Homo sapiens: one gene and its partner. The protein of the gene in region 1 purifies or fractionates together with the protein of each later gene. This does not show direct contact. Each region holds a gene or a part of one and is shown in the gene's direction. Other genes may lie near its edges.

Region 1 (3,500 bases):
GGACGGGCCCTGAAGAGGGGCGGGGCTGCGGTGGGGTGGGCGGAGATGCAGAGGCGTGGCCTTGGGGAAGGGCAAGGCTTCTCCAGGGGCTGCTTATGGATGGGGATGCAGGGGCAGTACCTTGGGATGAGGCGGTGTCTGGTGGGAGGCGGGGGGGCTTCTCCAGGTGCTGCCTGTGAGTAGGGATGCAGGGGCGTGGCTTGTGATGGGGCGGGGTCTGGGGAGGGGCGGGGCTTCTCCACGGACAGAGTTACCTGTGCCCTGTGGTCTCAGATTCCTCCACCTGACTATTCGTAAAACTGTTTCCTCCTGGTTCTGTCTATGTGATTTGTCCATATGACTGACTGGTGGTCTCTGGTTGTGTCTGTCTGTCTATCTTCCTGCCTGAGAGTCCAAATGACGGTGTCTGGCGGTCTCTGTCCACAGAGCTCATCATGTGGGACCGACTCCACTCTGGTCTTTCTTACCTTACTAGAACTGAATGTGTCTGACGGTTTCAGACCATTACCTGGTTCTTCCTTTTTAAAATTGAGGGCTGGGCGTGGTGGCTCACGCCTGTAATCCCAGCACTTTGGGAGGCTGAGGCAGGTGGATCACGAGATCAGGAGTTCAAGACCAGCCTGGCCAAGATGGTGAAACCCGTCTCTACAAAAAATACAAAAATTAGCTGGGCGTGGTGGCAGGCGCCTGTAATCCCAACTACTCGGGAGGTTGAGGAAGAGCATTGCTTGAACCCGGGAGGCAGATGTTGCAGTGAGCCGAGATCACGCCACTGCACTCTAGCCTGGGTGACGGAGCAAGACTCTGACTCAAAAAAAGAAAAAAATTGAGATGTCTTCCACATCCTACCAAATTCACCCTTTAAAAATGTACAATGAAGTGCTTTTTTTTTCTATTCATAAAACCGTGCAACCATCACCACTATGTAATTCCAGAACATTCCACCCCCTCCCTCCACAATATGGCTGGCCCTTCCATAGTACTCTACCAGTCTGGAGCCAGGTGCAGTGGCCTCTGTATGTTCTATGGACTTTGTCGGTGGGACTGTGTTTCCATTCACCTGTGTCTGGTGGTCTCTGTGTGTGTGGCTGTCTGTCTGCATTAGCCTGGCTGGCTGTGTGGGTGACCAGGTCTTTGTCTAACTGTGGCTGTCTGTCTGTGTGATTCTCCTCCATTCTGACCCTTGATCTGGCTGATTGTCCAGCTGTCCGTCTGAGCAAACGGCTGGCTGTCTTTCTGTTATCAGTTCTCTCTGGCTGCATGTGTCTGACACTGGCCATGTAGGTCTCTGTGTCCCCTCTCCTGTGGCCCCCGCTCAGCCAGTCCTGTGACCCCATCACCCTCTACCTCTTCTTCTTCTCTTGGAGCAGGCTGTGCTTTCGTGAAGTTCTCCTCCCACACGGAGGCGCAGGCGGCCATCCACGCCTTGCATGGGAGCCAGACCATGCCGGTGAGTTGGAGCTGCCCTTGGCCGTGGGGGTGGGGGTGGGAAAGGGGTGAGGGGGACAGGGATGAAACAGGCCATATTCCTACCGTCGCTGTCATCCGGTAGCCCCTGGCTGTCCTTCAGAGGGGGCACAGGTGGAGAAAGAGGCGCAGTCCCTGGCTGTGGTCCCTGGAGTGGGTATACACGTGTGAGTGTGTGCAGATGTGGAGGTGAGTAGGCAAGCGAAGTGTATGTGTGTGCATGGATGTATTACAAGTGTGTGCGTGTGGGTGAGTGTGCATGTCTGGGTGTGAGTGTGCCCGAGACTGCATGCATGTGTGTGTGTGAGTGCGTGTTTGAGTGTGTCATTACTAGTAGGCGAGTGTTATGTGAGTGCTGTGTGCACGAGGGGTGTGCGTAAATATGTATGGATAAGTGTGCCATTGTGTGCTAGTGTAGAGATACTAGTGCGTGTGCGTGTATGAGAGTGTACATGTGTGTTTCTATGTGTGTGAGCGTGTGTGTGAGTATGCCTGGGCCACGGGGGAGGAAGCACATGTGTGTGCATCTGCAGGTGCATTTGTGGGCAGGTTTGTGTGTGTGTGTGTGTGTGTTTGTGTGTGTGCATGACTGTGAGTGTGTCAGTATTGTGGGTGATTGTGTACACGTTTGTGAGTATATGCAGGTCTGTGTGAGTATAGGTTGTGAGTGGGTGAGTGTGTATGTGTGTACATGTAAGGGTATCCTAAGGGGATGACACCTGGGTTGGATTTGCTGAGGCCAGGAGAGGCCCTGACAAAAAGAAAGGCTGGGAGGTGGCAACAGGTAGCCCAGAGGAGCCATAGAAGATGGGGCCGCAATGCGAGGCTGAGAAGCCTGGACTTTCTCCTAGGGCAGTGGGGAGCCACAGACGGTTTAGAGCAAGGGAGGAGACAGGCCAGGTCGGTTGCAAATATCCCTTTGGGGCTAATGTAGAGGATGGGCAGGGTGCAAGACTAGAGGCTGGGAGGCCAAAGAGGAGGCTAGGCCAAGGTCCAGCTGAGGTAGGAGGAGGCCTGAGCTGGGGCCAGGTGGACAGGGAGGAGGGCTGATCAGAAAACAGACATTAGGGTGAGAATGGATGGGGGGCCTGTTGACTCACTGGTTGAGGGAGGGGTGGGGATTGGGGACAGGTCCCAGAGTCTGCAGCAGTGAGAGGCTGGGGAGGACCAAGGAGGCACTGGGGACTGCCCTTCCCCCGAGGAAGGAGTCCCCAGAAGCCATTGTTCCTGCACCCACATCTCCGAATCTGCTACAAGGAAGATGGGACCTGAGAGGAACAAGCCACCTCTCTCAGCTCTTAAAACCCAGGGGAGGGGCTTAGTTCAGCACAAGGGCAAGTGTTCCCAAGCTCAGAGATGTCCCAGGACAGGGCTGGTAGGCGTCTGGAGGAGTGAGTTCTCTATCGGAGGAGGCATGTCAGCGAAGACAGGGAGGCAACAGGGTGCATCCTGTGGGAGCCAGCTCACCAGGGAGGAGCTGGTCGAAGGGGAAGATATTTTCCTTCTTGAGCCCCAGAGTCGGGGTGTGGGCTGGTTTGTGAGGGGTGGGAATGGCCTCCTGGCCCCTGCCTCAGGCCTCTCTTTTATTTTTTTGAGACAGAGTCTCGCTCTGTCGCCCAGGTTGGAGTGCAATGGGGCAATCTCAGCTCACTGCAATCTCCACCTCTCGAGTTCAAGCGATTCTTCTGCCTCAGACTCCCAAGTAGCTGGGATTACAGGCACGCGCCACCACACCTGGCTAAATTTTGTATTTGTAGTAGAGACGGGGTTTCACCATGTTGGTCAGGCTGATCTCGAACTCCTGACCTCAGGTGATCTGCCCACCTTGGCCTCCCAAAGTGCTGGGATTACAGGCATGAGCCACTGTGCCCGGCCACCAGGCTTCTCTTGTTACCGATATCAGGACCTGTTGCAGCATCCTGACTGCACAGACAGACACTCCCTGGCTCACCGCTGCTTCGACTGCCCAGGGCTGCCTGTTGGTGGATTTCAGCCCAGCCCTGTGGCACCTGGACAGCCATGGAGTGGGATGG
Region 2 (3,500 bases), on another chromosome or scaffold:
AACATTAACTGGATTAAGCAAAGAGAGAGAATTTACTGGCTTTTTTACTGTAGAGTCCAGATAGTTTTAGCCACCTGCATAGCTGGATCAGGAATTCACATAAAATTAAGAATTGGTTTCTGTCTCTCACTCTTTGCTACTTTAGTGACTGCCCCACCCCAGACCCCCAGCACATTTCCCAGTAGTTTCAGGCTTACATAATTCCACCTTCTCTTTCCCAACAGTTCTTTTTTCTTTTTTTTTTTTTTTTGAGACAGAGTCTTGTACTGTCGCCCGGACTGGAGTGCAGTGGTGCAATCTTGGCTCACTGCAATCTCCGCTTCCCGGGTTCAAGCGATTCTCCTGCCTCAGCCTCCCAAGTAGATGGGACTACAGGCGCCTGCCACCACGCCCGGCTAATTTTTTGTATTTTTAGTAGAGAGGGGGTTTCACTGTGTTAGCCAGGATGGTCTCGATCTCCTGACCTCGTGATCTGCCCGCCTCTGCCTCCCAAAGTGCTGGGATTACAGGCGTGAGCCACCACGTCTGGCCCCCAATAATTCTTATAAAAGTCCTGGAATTGAATCTCATTGGCCTGATTTGGGTCGCACATCTATTTCTGAATCAGTCATTGCAGACTTGGGGATAGAATATGTTAATGGCTACAGTGGATCACGTGTTCACTCTTGGAGCTGCAGCAGAGGGAGCCAGCTCCATGTGGATTGAGGACAAAGGAATAATTCCATAAAAAACAGTGGCATCTTTTGTTGTTGTTGTTCTTTGAGACAGAGTCTCACGCTGTCACCCAGGCTGGAGTGCAGTGGCGCAGTCTCGGCTCACTGCAAGCTCCGTCTCCCGGGTTCACGCCATTCTCCTGCCTCAGTCTCCCGAGTAGCTGGGACCACAGGTGCCTGCCACCATGCCCAGCTAATTTTTTGTATTATTAGTATTATTTTTTAGTAGAGACGTGGTTTCACCATGTTAGCCAGGATGGTCTCCATCTCCTGACCTCATGATCCACCCGCCTCGGCCTCCCAAAGTGCTGGGATTACAGGCGTGAGCCACTGCACCCGGCCAAAACAGTGGCATCTTACAAAACTATCTCTCACATGAAGAGAAACCTTCTTGAAGCCCTTAGCAAAGAGCATGGGCACTTTGGAACTAGGGAAGGACCAATTCTTGCTCTTCCTCACACATGCTAATTATAGTCTTGCTTGCTTTCTCCTCTTCCTAGAATGCATCACCAGAATATTCACATGGATCACCTCCTCATTTCTTTCAGATTCTGTTCAAATGTCATCTTACCAGGCTCTCTTGACTTCCCTCTAAAATGGTACCACCCCCAGCCCCTAAATGTCATTTTCTAACCCTATAATTTGCTTTTTTCTCCATAGTGTGTGATATGTTGGTATATATTCTGTGTTCCTCCATGAGAAAAAAGACCTTGTCGTTTTTGTTTACTACTATATTCTAGGTTCCTAGAAAAATTCTTGACATACAGTAGGCATTCAGATATTTATCCCTCAAACAAAGCAATGCATGAATATTAGAAAAATGAAAGGAACAGAGATAAATGACTCTTAAAAGTATGGAGGAACTTTTTTTGGGGAGAAGGAGGGTGGTGTTTGATACTGAGGAGTTAGTAAAATATTCCTATGATATTGCTACTATTCTTTTCACTAGAGGCTTCATATATTATATTTTATTATTACATTTAAGAATCCTTATTAGGTACACTGTTAATTATTAGTTCCAGTGATTGATTTCATCCTGTTCATATGACTGAAAGCAACACTATTCAGTAGAAATACAATGCAAGCGGCTGGGCGTGGTGGGTCTGGCCTGTAATCCCAGCACTTTGGGAGGCTGAGGCGGGCAGATCATCAGGTCAGGAGTTCGAGACCAGCCTGACCAACATGGTAAAACCCCCTCTCTACTGAAAATACAAAAAAATTAGCTGGGCATGGTGGCATGTGCCTGTAATCCAGCTACTTAGGAGGCTGAGGCAGGAGAATCACTTGAACCTGGGAGGCAGAGGTTGCAGTGAGCCGAGATTGTACCACTGTTCTCCAGCTTGGGCGACAGAGCGAGACTCCGTCTCAAAAAAAAAAAAAAAAAAAAGAAATAAATATAATGCAAGCTATAAATTTGTGCCACATAGGTAAGTTAAAATTTTTCTAGTGGCCCCAGAAAATAATGAAAAGAAACAAGTGAAATTAATTTTAATATTACATTTAACTCAACATATCTAAAGTATCATTTCAACATACAGTCGATGTAAAACATTTTTGAGATATATCACATTTTCGTAAAACATGTTTGAAATCAGGTATATATTTTATAATTTACATTACATCTGAATTCGGACTAGCACCAAAAATCACATGTGGCCAGTGGCTACTATATAAGATACCATTGTTTAGAGCATATATGCATCCATGTATTCATGTATTTGATAAATATTTATAGACTAGTGCCAGAAACCATTCGAAAGGCTGGAATTCATAGGTGAAGAGGACAGATGGGCTCTCTGATTTCATGGAGTTTATGTTTTACAGGGAAGAGACAAAAAAATAAGTAAACAATTTCCAAAGAGTTAAGTAGAAAGGAGGTTATTTATATGATGATTGATTTAAATAATATACCCAGAGTAAAGTGAACCAATCTTAAGTATGTATAGCTAGATGAATTTTTTTTAATGTGACAACCACTCAGATCACAAGGCTCCTTCCTGTTCATTAGTAAACAGTTTGAAATTAGAGTTTTTAAAGGGGGGAAGGGATGGGAGGAGAATATAATAATATCTTTTCTACTTTTGATAGGCATGGAAAGGAGGAAATTGTTTTCTGGACTACTGGGCTAGTGGTCAGAGCACTGTTTCCTCTTGGGAAGAAGGAAATTGAGCTTGGAGCCAAATCTATCCTTTGCCTTTGATTCCTCCATTCAACTATAGTAATATATTTTTTAAAAGGCTCTGCTGCCCTCTGGTATCTAAAATGAATTTAAAAAGGTAAATTGGTTCTAGAACTATACCTAATGAAGAGGTCTACTGTTTTAGTAAGGGTTTGTCAATGACAGAGTTAACCACAATATTCCATTCTCTGAGTACACTGTAAGTTCTGCAATGGTTTGATGATATTTCTTAGCTCAATATAAATAATATTAGACTATTTGTGTCAATAGTTTTTTTATGAGTTAATTTATACGTTTCCTTTCAAATTGCAGTTTTAAAAATGGTATTAAGTTTAAAAAAAAGAACATAAATTGTAGGCCAAATATTTTATGTATGAATGCTAATTATCATTTTATCTTTGCAGATTTTGAAATACATGGCCAAATATTTTATGTATGAATGATAATTATCATTTTATCTTTGCAGATTTTGAAAGACATAGCCAATCGATTCCATATGATGAATGGCTCCAAAATACATTTTGTGCCCGGCTGGGATTGTCATGGGTTGCCCATTGAAATAAAAGTATTATCAGAACTTGGTAGAGAAGCTCAGAATCTTTCAGCTA

What was found. The genes of interacting proteins can lie anywhere in the genome.
Region 2: the proteins of CELF5 (region 1) and IARS2 purify together in Homo sapiens (affinity purification with mass spectrometry; 2 studies listed by BioGRID and IntAct, with this or other methods). This does not show direct contact.

The regions. Positions count from the first base shown.
Region 1 is NC_000019.10:3,276,661-3,280,160, forward strand, and holds part of CELF5 (CUGBP Elav-like family member 5), read left to right. Parts: intron 1-1,370; coding exon 1,371-1,450; intron 1,451-3,500. UniProt on the Homo sapiens protein: RNA-binding protein implicated in the regulation of pre-mRNA alternative splicing. Mediates exon inclusion and/or exclusion in pre-mRNA that are subject to tissue-specific and developmentally regulated alternative splicing.
Region 2 is NC_000001.11:220,097,132-220,100,631, forward strand, and holds part of IARS2 (isoleucine--tRNA ligase, mitochondrial precursor), read left to right. Parts: intron 1-3,358; coding exon 3,359-3,500.